4 linked regions of the Homo sapiens genome follow. The protein of the gene in region 1 purifies or fractionates together with the protein of each later gene. This does not show direct contact. Each region holds a gene or a part of one and is shown on either strand. Other genes may lie near its edges.

What was found. The genes of interacting proteins can lie anywhere in the genome.
Region 2: the proteins of KLC4 (region 1) and OSBPL5 purify together in Homo sapiens (affinity purification with mass spectrometry; one large-scale study listed by BioGRID and IntAct). This does not show direct contact.
Region 3: the proteins of KLC4 (region 1) and OAS1 purify together in Homo sapiens (co-immunoprecipitation; one large-scale study listed by IntAct). This does not show direct contact.
Region 4: the proteins of KLC4 (region 1) and MCM3AP purify together in Homo sapiens (affinity purification with mass spectrometry; one large-scale study listed by BioGRID and IntAct). This does not show direct contact.

What each region holds. Positions count from the first base shown.
Region 1 is NC_000006.12:43,062,631-43,066,130, reverse strand, and holds part of KLC4 (kinesin light chain 4), read right to left. Parts: intron 3,215-3,500; coding exon 2,984-3,214; intron 512-2,983; coding exon 430-511; intron 1-429.
Region 2 is NC_000011.10:3,158,811-3,162,310, reverse strand, and holds part of OSBPL5 (oxysterol-binding protein-related protein 5), read left to right. Parts: exon of another isoform or gene 1-1,393; intron 1,394-3,500. UniProt on the Homo sapiens protein: Lipid transporter involved in lipid countertransport between the endoplasmic reticulum and the plasma membrane: specifically exchanges phosphatidylserine with phosphatidylinositol 4-phosphate (PI4P), delivering phosphatidylserine to the plasma membrane in exchange for PI4P, which is degraded by the SAC1/SACM1L phosphatase in the endoplasmic reticulum.
Region 3 is NC_000012.12:112,905,566-112,909,761, reverse strand, and holds the start of OAS1 (2'-5'-oligoadenylate synthase 1), read right to left. Parts: upstream 2,801-4,196; 5' UTR 2,723-2,800; coding exon 2,543-2,722; intron 1,227-2,542; coding exon 938-1,226; intron 1-937.
Region 4 is NC_000021.9:46,268,612-46,272,111, forward strand, and holds part of MCM3AP (germinal-center associated nuclear protein), read right to left. Parts: intron 1,953-3,500; coding exon 1,790-1,952; intron 1-1,789.

The DNA.
Region 1 (3,500 bases):
AACCTCAGTTGTTCACCCAGTAATTCATGCATTCAACAAACATTTATTTAATAAGTATGAACCAAGGGATGTTCCAGGAGTACAAAGGTAAGAAAGACCTGGTTCTTTCCCTTGGGGGGCTCATGGTCTCCCTGTCTCAGGTTTATTCTCCCACTAGACTGTGAACTCCTTACTGGTAAGACCTATGCCATTTCCATCTCAGTACTCCTAGTGCCTAGCACAGTACCTGGCACATATTCAGTGCTTAATACATGTTCGTTCAATGGGGAGGCTGAGGAAATCGAAGTACTAGCCCAGCCCCTGCCCTGTCTCCAGAGAAAGTGGAGAACCTATTTCTAGATGGTGACTGTCCTGTGTACAGGGTGGGCCACAGCTAGGGCCAGCCTCCTGCTGCCCCTTTTCACCCTCCCATTCCAGAGGCAGACTCACAGCCATTGCTGGGGTCCTCTTCCTCCTCATTAGGAAAGAGGTCATCCAGGGAATCCTTGGTGGCATCGCCTTCTTTCTCCTCCTGGAAGGGAAGAAGCAACATATAAGGGCCAAGATATCCCTACCTAGTAGCCTTCTCAGTGACCCCTCTAAGCCATGAAATCACAGACAGATGGGACCTAGGAGAAGACTGTTGTTCCTGTCTCTGCCCCTGGAAAGGCTAGCAAGTGGCCCAGCCAAGCTCAGGCCTCTTGTTTGTAACAGCCAGAGATGCTTTGGACAAAATCTCAAGACTTCCCCTCCTTCTCATACAGAAAGTTTCCTTCCTGGCCGGGTGTGGTGGCTAACGCCTGTAATCCCAGCACTTTGGGAGGCCGAGGTGGGCAGATCACCTGAGGTCAGGAGTTCAAGACCATCCTGACCAACGTGGAGAAACCCCATCTCTACTAGAAATACAAAATTAGCCGGGCGTGGTGGCGCATGCCTATAATCCCAGCTACTCATGAGGCTGAGGCAGGAGAATCGCTTGAACCTGGGAGGCAGAGGTTGCGGTGAGCCGAGATCATGCCATTGCACTCCAGCCTGGGCAACAAGAGCGAAACTCTGTCTCAAAACAAAAAAAAAAGAAAAAAAAAAGTTTCCTTTCTAACCACCCTCAATCTTGCCTTAACTCTTGTAATTATGGCCCTATGCTGATCTCTGTGTGTTTACGTTGATTGTATGTCTGTCCTGTCTCTCCTGAGGGAAGGGAGTGTGGCCGATCTTATTGACATGTACCCAGAAAGTGTCTAGCTCAGCCTGGTGCCCATCATCTGCACAGCTCATTCTGGACTTACTACGTAACCCTCCCTCACTGTCTAACCTATTCCGCACTAGGAAAATCTGCTTTTCCCCATCAGGAACTGCAGCCTCATCCAAACACCAACCCTCCTACCCAGCTTCACCAATGTGTCCTATGCAATTCATCTACTCACTTTCCCTGGGACAGACCAGCTTTTCCAGGCTGTAAGCCTTATCAATGACACCCTGCACTCCAGTCTAAAAAGCTGCTCCCTCTTCCTCATCATGAACTTTCAAAATCCATCTCAACTCCTAACCCACTCAAATGGGAAATCCAACCTATATCCTACCCATCCCTGTATCCTGCTTCCTCTATTTTTTTGTTTGTTTTTTGAGACAGAGTCTCTAGTCTGGCAACAGCCCAGGCTAGAATGCAGTGGCATAATCACAGCTCACTGCAGCTTCCACCTCCTGGGCTCAAGCGATCCTCCCACCTCAGCCTCCAGAGTAGCTGAGGCTATAGGTGCACACGACCACATCAGGCTAATTTTTTAATTTTTTGTGGAGACAGGGTCTCACTATGTTGCCCAGGCTCCCTGCTTCCTCTATGAATTCTTCTTAGACCATTCCAGCCCTCAGAGACATTTCTCTGTGAAATTCTTCCCACACTGACTGAACCACTCATCCAGCACTGAGCACTTGCTGCTTTGTATTTTGTCACATATATGTTCTCCTGGATAAGACTTGTTCCCTACAGATACATCTCAAGAAAACACACACTCTCAGCCAGGCGTGGTGGCTCACGCCTGTAATCCCAGCATTTTGGGAGGCCGAGGGCAGGCAGATCACTTGAGGCTAGGAGTTTGAGACCAGCCTGGTCAACATGGCAAAGCTCCATCTCTACTAAAAATACAAACATTAGCCGGGTGTGGTGGCAGACACCTGTAATCCCAGCTACTTGGGTGGCTGAGGCCCAAGAATTGTTTGAAAGCCAGAGGCGGAGGCTGCAGTGAGCTGAGATGGCATCACTGCATTCTGTTGAGCGAGGGTTAAATTTCACACATTTTGGACCGGGCATGGTAGCTCACACCTGTAATCCCAGCACTTTGGGAGGCCCAGGCGGGCAGACCACCTGAGGTCAGGAGTTCAAAACCAGCCTGGCCAACATGGTGAAACCCCGTCTCTAGTAAAAATACAAAAATTAGCCAGGCGTGGTGGCAGGTGCCTGCAATCCTAGCTACTCAAGAGGCTGAGGCAGGAGAATTGCTTGAACCCGGGAGGCGGAGGTTGCTGTGACCTGAGATTGCACCATTGCACTCCAGCCTAGGCAACAAGTGTGAAACTCCGTCTCAAAAAAAAAAAAAAAATTCACACATTTTGAAAGCAAATTTTAGGAGGGTCATGCTCAACTGGGTTATGCTTTCCCTAATTGTACCACGTAGAATTCTGGATTGGAATTGTCCAGGTGCTTATCTATCTCCCTCACAAGCTTGTAATTGTGAGAGCAGGAACTCTGTGTGCCCCATTCACCAGTGCAGTGCACAATGCCTGGTACACAGTAGGCATCTCATTAAATGTTGACTGAATTACCTGAATATTGTTTTTCCCCTTGCTGTCACCTGGAGTTGGTGTCAGGGCTGAAAAAGGAATTCTTTCAGGTGAGAGCAGGTTGGGTAGAGCTGATGGACCCTGAGGATGATGGGGCAATTGCCCCCATGTCTGTGGTAACTCCCGGCTGCCCACCCCTCAGCCAGTCTCGCCTGTGCACACTCACCGAGGTATGTCCATCCTCATCATACTGCCGCAGCTGCCCCAGGAACTCCAGGTGCTTCTTTTCCTCCTCCAGCTGAGCCACAGCCTGTTCACTGCGCTGTAGCCGCTGCTGGGTGCCAGCCAGCTCATCCCGCAGCCACTGGTTCTCCTGGCATAGCCGCCGCACCTGAGCCCGCAGCTTCTGTTTCTCCGACTCCACTGTGCTCAGGTGGCTGGCTAGAGCCAGCATCACCTAGGTGGGCACATCCCCTGAGCTCCAGATTCTGGGTGGGAGTATTCAGGAACAGGTGGAAGGGGAGCCTACTGGGACGTGGCAAGACTGGCAGGGGCACAGAGGAGCCAGAAGGTGGGGGTGTAGCAGTGGTGCTACCTTCAAAACATACCCTGAATCCAATTTCCCACTACCTCCACTGCTGTCACCCTGGACCAAGCCACTATCAATTCCTACCCAAATTATTACAATAACTTCCTCACTGGCCTCGTTTCTGCCCTTGTTCCCCTATTGTCTATTTGTAACC
Region 2 (3,500 bases), on another chromosome or scaffold:
AAATGCTTTGCTCGGCCTCCCAGCCCACCTCACATCCGGCTACTCCCTCCAGGGCTGGCCTCCACTCCCCTCCTGGCCCTACCAGCTCTTGCCTGGAGCTCCACATCAGCTACCTAGTAGGCTCCCCTTTCGTGGCCTTCCTAGCCCTTCTCCAGCCAGCAGCCAGCATGGTGTTTAAAAAGATAAACCACTTCATGTAATTTGACCACTTAGAGCCCTTTGAGATTTGCCATGGGTCTCAGTAAGTCCTGACCCCTTTCCAGACCCCACAGGCCCTAGATGCCCCTCCACTCTGTCTCCCTTCCCTTGTTCTCCTCTCCCCCTCCCCTCCCCTCCCTCTCCCCTCCTTGCTCACAGGGGTCTGGCGTCAGCCCCGGCTTCTTACTCCAGGGCCTTTGCACTGCCTGTGCCTCTGCTTTCGGCCCCTCCTTGGATCTGCATTTGGTGGGCTCCATCTAATTCAGGTCCCAGCTCAGATGCTGCCTCTCTGAGAGAGTCTCTGTTCCTGGCCCGTTACCCATTCCAAAGCAGCTCTCAGCTCTGTGTTTTGTTTTCTCTTTATTTATACTGAAATGGTCATGTTTGTTTAATTGAATGGCTTCCTATGGAGAAAGCGATTGGGCCAAGCCAGGTTCATGGTGGGCGCCGCTGGTGCGTGGCATCTGTCCCTGGTGGGTGCCGCTGGTGCGCGGTGTCTGTCCCCATGCACGGTTGCCTGCAAGTCTGCTCCGGGCTCTCTTCCCAGGGGCTGGCACACAGTAGGTGTTCTACGGTTAAGTGAGGCACATGTGGAAAGCCGTCATACTGTCTCATCCCAGGGAGGTCAGTAGATTGAGACTGGCTGCCCCCATCTAGCAAGTCCCACCCACCATGTCCTGGTTTCACCAGCATCGGCTGGTGTGGGACGTGACCAGCTCATTTCCTCCATGCTCTAGGATGGGAAGGACAAGAGGGCGTGACTCTTCCCAGAGTCCCATCATCTCTGATTTAGGAATGGAGCCCTTAGGGTGTCTCACCTCCTCGGGATGCCTAATAGTGTGTTTGGTGAATGCAGATGGACTTAACTGGTCCATAGATCCCCTCTCACCCTGCTGACACGAAGACAAGGATGAAGGGGAAAGTTGAGGCTCAACAACTGAACAGTATTCCTTCTAAATATGTACATTCTTAGGGATTTTAAGTGGAAAACAGGGAGGAGATTTGAGGGATACCCCACCTCGGCAGGCAGCTGGTCAGGCTGCCTGTTGTGACCAGCCTGGGGTCGCCTTCCCTTCATCCAAGGCCAGGGGAGATGGCAAACCTTCAGTAAGCGCTGCCGTACCTGGCAGAGCAGAAGCACCACCCCAGCTTGGAGACAGCATGCCCCTGACTGCTGGTCACGGATGGCCCCTTGGTAAGTGCCCTGTGCTTCTGAGCAAGGCGGGAACGGGCCTCCAGACGCTGGGGGACAGCACAGAGGGAGCTCTGTCGCCCGTGCCTTTGTCCCTTCTCTCGCTGGCCCATTCTCAGCTGCTTCCTCGCGGGGAAGGGCCTTCCTCGGCCAGGGGAGGGAGAGCTCAGTATCCCGGCGTTGCGGAGGGATTGATGTGCTATTGGGGTGAATACGGCGCTCGGTGTGGGGGCGGGGTGGGGGGGGGGAGGGTTGTCATTTAAAGGGGACTTTGGGGATGGTCAGCAGAGGAAGGCGTGGTGTTGGGGCGGAGCATCCGCATCTCCGCGCCCCTTTCCTGGCAGCCAGCGGGATTTCTCCTGATCAGCTATTGCGGCGAATAAGACAGAGTCAACTAAAGGGCGCGCCGCTGTGGGTCCCATTCGCTGGGCTGCGGCTCCAGGCAACGGCATTTGTATGCCCGCCTATTAGGGTGAATGCGACGCGGGGAGTGTGGGTCGCTTAAAGGGCCGGGACTCTGGAAGCAGTGCGTCCCGCTCCTGCCCGCCTATTGCGGTGAATACGGCGCAGCAGTCGGGTTGTTTAAAGGGTCCAGGCGTCCTGCTTGCTGGACTGTGCTGCTTTGGGGCAGCTCCTGGTCCTGGGCGGGAGGGGAGCACTTTAGGGAGGCTCCCCACATTGGCCAGAGGGAGAGGAGCCCCGACGCTGGCCCGTGGGGCAGGAACGCTAGATGCCCTCCTTACAGGATGAACCTCACCCCCACCCCACCCCCTGCTGCCTTAGGAAGTCACCCAAATTTAGCAAAATTCAAGCCAGAGCCAGCAGGCACCAGGGTGGGGCATGTGACCCTGTTCTGGAGGGCTGGTGGGGCCAGGGCAGGGAGGGGGCTGGGCCTAAGAGATTGATGGTGGTGATGGTGGCAGGCACCGCCTCGGATCTGATCAGAAGGCCTAGCCGAGGAAGACGCAGCCGGAATTCTTCACCCCAGGTGCCAGGGTCAGCAGAGTTTATTTGCCTCCTAAACCTTGGTTACCCCGTCTGTAAAGTGAGGCTCATGGCTGGCCCTAGATGGTCTTTGTACACAAGCGCTGGGTGAGCATCAGCCATTGTGTGGGTGACTGGCATGACCCCCTACCCCACCCCTATGGGCTGCCAGTCAAAGGTTTCCACCCTCCAGCCACCATCTCCCTGACTCAGATAGTCCTGGGCCACCCCACCCAGCCGTGGCCCTGGCCCTCCCCAGGTGCACCCTGTCTCTGCCGGCAGACCCTCCACCTCTCTAGCCCTCTCCTCTGCTCCTGAACTTGGCATTGGTCCCAGGCTGCCCTGAGCTGTCTCAGGGGACTCCTGACCTGTGAAGGGGCAGCGAGTCCATGGGAAGCAGTTGGCCTGGGCTCTTTGAGGCTGCTGTCCTCACCTGTAGAGCAGGGACCATAGTACATGGTGTCCCTGAGTGCAGCGGATCCAGTTAGTGGCCTGGCACAGGGCCAGGGAGAACTGGAATGCCTTAGTGTCTGGCCTGCACACTCCCTACCAGCGAGCACTTTGTGGGTTAGGTACCAGGCCTCGTTACCCTGAGGCTGGGGTGCTGTGGACGGGGTGCTGGGACTTAGCATTAATGCTCAAAGACGAGCTACAGAGGTAGTGAGATCCCCCAGCCCCAGGGACACCTGAGAGTTCTACCTCTTCCCCGCGCCCGCCTCAAGAACATACCTGTCTCCTGGGCAGAAACCGACCCTCATGTTTCATTCTCTGTGGCCTCAGGGTGCGTGCACACTCTCGCCTGTGCCCTCAACCTGCTGTCCCTTGTGTTCAGAGGGTGGCTGGCCCGAGGGCTCACAGCATCTGACAGGCTCCCCTCTGAGACGGAGGAAATGGGGCCCCAAGAATGGCAGGGTCGTGGTGCTGCTCCTCGCTGGGCTTCAGTTTCTCCATCTTTAAGGCACCCCCATCCCTGACATTTGCCCGCAACCCCCACACCTGCGGGGCTAAGGCTCCTGCACACGGGCAACACCCCGGCAGGAACCGAGAAGGGAACTTGGACATCCAGAGCTCCCTCTTCACTCCCGAGGCCCTGGCTTCTCCAAGGGCTTCTGTCCATCTGCTCCTG
Region 3 (4,196 bases), on another chromosome or scaffold:
TCCGTGTCCCTCTGTGAGTTCACTGTGGTGTTTTGAGGTGCCTTCATATACAGCTGGGAAATTCATAGTTTTGACTGATTGACTGATTGATTGAGACAGGGTCTTGCTCTTGCTCTGTGCCTAGGATGGAGTGCAGTGGTACATTCGTGGCTCACTGACACCTCGAATCCTTGGCTGGCCTCATGTGATCGTTCAGTCTCAGCGTCCTGAATAACTGCGACCACAGGCATGTACCACCACACTTGGCTAATGTTTTAAAATTTTTAGTAGAGATGAGGTTTCACTTTGCTGCCCAGGCTGGTCTTGAACTCCTGGGCTCAAGCGACCCTCCTGCCTCAGCCTCCAAAAGTGTTGGAATTACAAGCATGAGCCACCACACTTGGCTGGAAGTTCCTATTTTTGAACACCTATTACTCATCAGAGCTGAATGTAGATGATCATTTATCACTTAAAATAATGATATGATACAGGTAGTGTGGTTTTACCAATTCTCCTGATGTGGCAAGGGAGCCTCTGAGAGGTTACACTTCCTGTCCAAATGTTCCTGCAAATTATAAATATCTATCTCCCAACGTGCTGCATACGTTTGATGAGATCTCATGTTGGGACAAAGATGAGAGTAACATGAACTTTAAGCCACATCTTTGCTGCCTGATTTTAGAAAGATAAAATTCACACATTTTGCCTTAAACAGAACCAGTAAGCCTTGCAGATGTTCTGTAAGAAATGTCTTTGTCCCCACATTATGCCAATTTGCTGTTTAATGTCTCTCCTGTGATAGATCATGACCGTATTCATTCTTGCCCCGGGACAGATCCTAAGATCTCCTCCCACCCTGCTTTAGAGAGATGCCCTGTTGGGGCAAAAAGCTCTCAAACTGTGGGAGATTTCTGCTCAGAAATGGGAAGAGGGAGAAAAAGAAGCTGGGAGCTCTCACCCAGGGCATCAAAGGCAGGCAGCACATCGAACTCCACCCCCTCCCCGAGCTGGAGCGAACTCAGTACGAAGCTGAGCGCACGGGGGTTGCCCCAGCGTGGAGCCTGGACCTCAAACTTCACGGAAAATGCTCTCTCTCTTTGACAGGCTTCCAGCTGTCTCCTAATTTCCTGGATGAACTCTCCCCGGCGATTTAACTGATCCTGAAAAGTGGTGAGAGGACTGAGGAAGACAACCAGGTCAGCGTCAGATCGGCCTCTGAGGGTGGTGCCCTTGCCTGAGGAGCCACCCTGAAAAAGACGACAAAAATAATAATTGATGCTTAGTGAGGCAAACCTCCCTAAATAAAATGACAGGAGCAATCACTAACATTATGGAGCACTAGCCACTGTTCTGAAGGCATTGCATGTCTTAAACTCCTATAATGCTCACAATGATGCTATGATTTGGATGCCATTATCATTAGTTCCCATTTTACAGATGGGAAAATGGATGCTCAGTGAGATAATATATCAGCCCCATCACCCAGCTAGTAGGTGGCAAATACAATTCAAACCTGGGGGCCTTCTTCCAGGATCTGTGTTCTTTTCCCATTGTCCTTTACGATGCCCAGGACTAGCTTATGCTGGGTGGTTCACACTTACTATTTTACTTAATCTACACGGCCCTATGAGGTATTGAGGGAAAGTAGAGGAAAAATCAGTTAGGTAAATGGTCAAGGCTGGGCCCTGGAGGAGCGGCCTGCCTGAAACTGGCGCAGGGAGTGGGACTTACCTAAAACAAATCCACAGTTATACATACAAGAGAAGCAGCGCTTTATGCTTGCCTAGAGATATACCCACAGCTGCATAAGGTAAGGGAAGTTGCACAGCTTTACTGATAAAAAGTTTCTCAAACAGTTACAGGGAGGAGAGTGGTTTCTTATAAAAGTTTTTTGCATTCAGCTGCAATCTGGCAATCCACTCAGACTTCCCTCTCCACAGTGGAGACAGCTTTCTTCTTTTGCTTACTGAACTTTTGCTCCAAGCTCACGTTTGTGTCCATGTTCCTTAATTTTCTTGGATGCAGGACAAAGAACCTTGGGTACTAATTCAGTGAGAAGCTGCTACATTAAGGTGCACTGGCAAGACTGCAACAGTATTGGGGATTATGGCTGAGGAAATTGGAACACAGAGTAGTTAAGTGACTTGCTCAAGGTCTTGCAGCCAGCAGGTGCTATTTGCTTTCAAAACATATGATTCTTCACTGCAGAAATGGTGAGCCCCTAGCCTGGCCACGAATTAGCAAACTGTTTACCAGAGCTGGGATTCAGTTCCCTATTTCTGAAATGGGCATCGCCCAGGACAGTGGTTCATAAACTTCAGCGGGAAGTAGGGGGGAGGGTCACTTGTTAATAATAGGGATGTAGGATTTCACCCCAGAATCTATTTTAACATGCTGTGTGGATAAATAAGAAACCACCATCCCAGAAGATCTCAGCTCTCTGTACTCACATTTGCACCCTGGGTTCTAGGTTTTTGCTTCTCTCTCTCTCTCTCTCTCATTCTCAATCTCAACTCTTGCACATTCAGCCACCCCTCCCCTGGCCAGGCAGGCCTGGACTCACCTTTACCACCTTGGACACACACACAGGGTAGGAGCTACCTCGGAAGCACCTTTCCTTCAGGAACCCACAGATGATGTCAATGGCATGGTTGATTTGCATGCGGAAACACGTGTCTGGCAAGAGATAGTCTTCAATGAACTTGTCCAGAGATTTGGCTGGGGTATTTCTGAGATCCATCATTGACAGGAGAGAGAGTGGCAACAGAACTGCCTCCCAGACCTGTTTGCTTTTATCTCTTCTGCTGACTGAGCTTGGACTGCTGTTGGTTTCGTTTCCTCAGAAGGGAGGAGCTGTCTTTGCACTTTCCTTTTGCAAATCAGACACTCCCCTGATCCCAGTGCTGAATTTCATCTGCTCACTCTTCTGCTTCCTGAAACTTACCCTTTGTCCTTTAGCCAGCAACAAGCAGCCCAGCCTTTCTCTGAACTCTGCTCTGGAAATGCATTTTAACCTCCAGCCAACATAAATCTTATTTAACAGATTTTGTGTTTCCTTCTTTATCTTTTTTTTGTTGTTGATGAAATCCTTTCACAGTTGTCTGTGGTATTTTCCAGCAATACATGCCCACTGCAAAAAGAAAAAAAGTCAGAAAAACCAGGAAGTGGAAAGATCATCTATGATTCTAACACTACAAAATTGCCTCTATAAACGTTTTGATATAGAGCTTTCCAGATTTTTTTCAAATGTTAACACACACACAAACACAGGTCTCTTTTCTTTTTGTTAAGAATGGTATTATACTATGCTTTTTTCCCTTTCAATTAGTAGATTTTTATTTTATTTTATTATTTTTTGGAGACAGGATCTTGCTTTGTTATCCAGGCTGGAGTGCAGGGGCATGATCATGACTCGTGCAACCTCAACTTCCTGGGTTCAAGGGATCCTCCTGCCCCAGCCTCCTGAATACCTGGGACTACAGGCATGCGTTACTGCACCCAGCTCATTTTTTATTTTTTGTAGAGACAAGGTCTTGCTATGTTGCCCAGGTTGGATTTTATTTCTCACAGCAGTTTTAGGCTTACAGAAATATTGAGCTGAATGTGCAGAGAGTTCCATAAGCTCTCTCTCCTGCCAATAAGTTCCTCTATTATTAACAGTACTGTGATACATTTGTTACAATTGATGAATTGATATTAATACATCATAATTAACAAAAGTCCATTTACATTAAGGTTTACATTAAGGTTCACTCTTGTGTCCTACAGTTCTATGGATTTTGCCAAACATAACATGTCATGTATCCACCATTACAGCACCATGCAGAATAGTTTTGAGATAGGAGGTGGGGCTTGACTCAGGGCCAGATTGAAGACTGGCTGGCATGAGCACCAGCACCATGAACAGTTTACTCATTCCCTGGCAATGACCCAGTTACCACCCTTCTTCTAGAAATTTCTGAATAACCTGCCCTTAATTTGCACGTATTTAAAAGTGGGTATGAATGTGACTATAGAAGTGCCCTGAGCTGCTGCTCTCCAGGCACTGCCTATGGGGTGGCCCTGCTCTGCAGGGACAGTCACAGAACTGTAACCCTGCTGCCTCAATAAACCTTTTTCTTCCTCCTCTAGCTCACCCTTGAATTCCTTCCTGGACGAAGCCAAGAGCCTTCCCGGACGGTGTCCCAGTTTTGGGGCTCCCCTGCCCTGCAAGAGTT
Region 4 (3,500 bases), on another chromosome or scaffold:
AACAGCAGTGGAAACAGCAAGCACAAAGCCTCTGAGCAGGAGTGCACAGGGCTGCGGGGACAGGAGGCTGCCTCTGTGCGCCACTGCCGGTGAAGAGCTTTTCTAAAGAAAAATACCCGAATATCTCTTTTGTTTAAAGTTATTAAAAACGGCCAGGCAAGGTGGTTCATGCCTGTAATCCCAGCACTTTGGGAGGCCGAGGTGGGTGGATCACCTGAGGCTAGGAGTTCGAGATCAGCCTGGCCAGCATGGCGAAATCCCATCTCTACTAAGTTAGCTGGGCGTGGTGGCGGGCTCCTGTAGTCCCAGCTACTGGGGAGGGAGGCTCAGGCAGGAGAATCACTTGAACCCAGGAGGCAGAAGTTGCGGTGAGCAGAGATCATGCCACTGCACTCCAGCCTGGGCAACAGAGCGAGACTCCATCTCTAAATAAATAAATAAATAAAGTTATTAAAAATGGTCAACATTCTACTAACGCTCAATCATCGTGTATACAACATTAACTATGTTTTATTTTTGTTTATTTTTTTTGAGAGGGCCTCTGTTGCCCAGGCTGGAGAGTGCAGATCTTGGCTCACTGCAGCCTCAACTTCCTGGGCTCAAGCGATCCTCCCACCTCAGCCTCCTGAGTAGCTGGGACTACAGGAGCATCCCACCACACCTGCCTGGCTTTTTTTTTATTTTTAGTAGAGACAGGGCCTCCCTATGTTGCCCAGGCTGGCCTTGAACTCCTGAGCTCAAGCAATTTTCCCACCTCCCAAGTTTGCCAAGGTGCCAGGATAACAGGTGTGAGCCAAAGCACCCAGCCAATATTAACTACAAGTGGCAAGTTGTGGAAAACCTTTTCATTTACTCCAGAATATCAGTTCTGTTTGGCAACCTGCAGATCTGACAAGGAGCAAACCTGCAAAAGACCTTCTGACTGTGACATGACTGTGGGTTTAGTCACTGTTTACAGGAGGCCCTGATGTGTGACCAAAGAAATGACCTGGAGCCACAGATCAACCAAGGCAGGTCCCAGGATCTCCCAGGCAGCATCCTCCCCACGCTGTGGCCACTACGGGCTTGTGGCAAGGAATCCTGGCAGCCTCCTTGGAGCCGCTGCCAGAATGGGCAGCAGAGTGTGTGCGAGGTGAGGTGGCGCTCTGTGCGGTGGGCCGCGGTCCTGGTCACATTGCACTGAACGGAATCATGCAGGGCCTAGAACAGCAGGTGCTACAGGGGCTGCTCTGTCCTCATCCCCAAGTTCCGTGGAAGTGGAACAAAATAACCGACTGGAAACCCCAAGACACAGTTTACTCTGCGCAAACCCCAGGGGAGGGACTGGCCTTCCCATTGCCTCTGCAACCCTAGCACACGGCAAAGCACAGACACTGAGGCACCCACTGAAAGGAACTTAGCGCCATCAGCCTCACTCCAGAAACTTCGATTTAAAACATGAAGCATTTCAAAGTCAGAGATTTTGTGCATATGATATGAGATTTTTGCTTTTTAGTTAGCTTTCATGGATGATGATAGTGCTGAATTCAACCTATGTTTTCCCAAAGAGATTTTTCTTATTTGAACCATGGAACAGTATTTTCCATTGCACAGCCTTTCCGGATGGTGACCAACAGTGATAACCCCTATAAAACAGGGCAACACCGGTAACCCCTTCGTGGGGCTGCTGCAAGGGTGACACAGCATCAGCCTGAGACCTCCTTTGAAAAGCTTGGAATAAGAAAGCACCCAAACAGCACAAGAACCACCTGCTTTCTTCCAACTCTGCAAGCACAGCTCATTTACTCACCTGACTGAAGTAACAGTGTAAAAGACAAGCGTTCAGGTAAGAAGCTGACTGGACCAGTTTGAAAAATCTCACAAAATTATTACTGTTCAATGCAGCAAAAGCCTGAACAGCAAATTTCACCTCAGATGAGTTTCTAACAGCAGGATGGAACTGTTGTACTTCTCTGTTAATTAAAGGAGAGAAAAGGGGTTGGAATGTTATTTTAAATAAGACAAAATTTTCATGAAGATAGATCTGATAAATAATAGATTTCACTGGCCAGATGCAGTGGCTCACACCTGTAATCCCAAAACGTGGGGAGGCCAAGGTGGGAGGATCGTTTGAGCCCAGGAGGTTGAGGCTGCAGTGAGCTGTGATCGCATCACTGTACTCCAGCCTGGGTGACAGAGCAAGACCCTGTCTCAAGTAATAATGATACTGGATTTCAACCATACTGAGAAGGAGGGTCTTACTGGTGAAATGTGCCGTTAAATTCATAGTTTACTAACTACCACGCTTGGATTGGTTTGACAAAGGTTTCCTTCAAAACAATAATGAATAGAATAAACAAATTCAAAAAGCAATTTAGGAATCAGTTATCAAAAAGTTACTTTAAAGTAATGCCAATGGACTGTCAGCTGTGCTGGATGGTAAAGTCTAAAAAACAGAAAACTTAACTCTTTTTGTTTAGAAATGAATTGATTTTGACTGAATTATTCGTGATGGAGAACAAATGCTTGTCACGTAGAAAAAGACAATACAGCAATCTTTCATAACCAGTTTAATTTTTTTTTTTTTTGAGACAGAGTACTTGCTCTATCACCCAGGCTGGAGTGCACTGGCACAATCACAGTTCATTGCAGCTTCAACCTCCTGGCCTCAAGCAACCCTCTCATCTCGGCCTCCCAAAGTGCTGTGATAACAGGCCATGGGCCACCACACCTGGGTTTTTTTTTTTTTTTTTTAAGAGATAGGGTCTTGCTTTGTCACCCAGACTGGAGGACAGTGGCATGATCACAGCTTACTGCAGCCTTGACCTCCTGGGCTCAAGGGATCCTCCCACCTCAGCCTCCCCAGTCGCTGGAACTACAGGCACACATCACCACACCTGGTTAATTTTATTTATTTATTCATTTTTGTGGAAGGGTCTCACCATGTTGCCCAGGCTATACAAGGCTTAATTTTAAAATTTAAAATCAGCCGGGCATGGAGACTCTAACTGTAATCCCAGCACTTTGGGAGGCCGAGGCAGGTGGATCACCTGAGGTCAGGAGTTCCGGACAAGCCTGGCCAACATGGTGAAACCCTGTCTCTACTAAAAATACAAAAAAATGAGGCGGGCATGGTGGTATGTGCCTGTAATCCCAGCTACTCAGGAGACTGAGGCAAGAGAATCGCTTGAACCCAGGAGGTGGAGGTTGCAGTGAGCCAAGATCGCACTACTGTACTCCGGCCTGGGCAACAGAGCAGGACTCGGTCTCAAAAATAAAATGAAATAAAAAATTAAAATCAACCACACATCTAGATATTCTGTCACACAGTTCTTGAGGAAAATACAAAGAAAAAAAAAAGAGGTTCACCATTGATAGGGGATTCTTAGAACTAAAGGGGACACTGTCCACCATAAGTCCAGCTTAACCACAAGCAGAGGGTCCACCACAAGCAGAGGGCCAGAGAGCTCGCCAGACTTCGCATGTAAGTGACTAATTATGGATCAGACCAGGGTTTTACA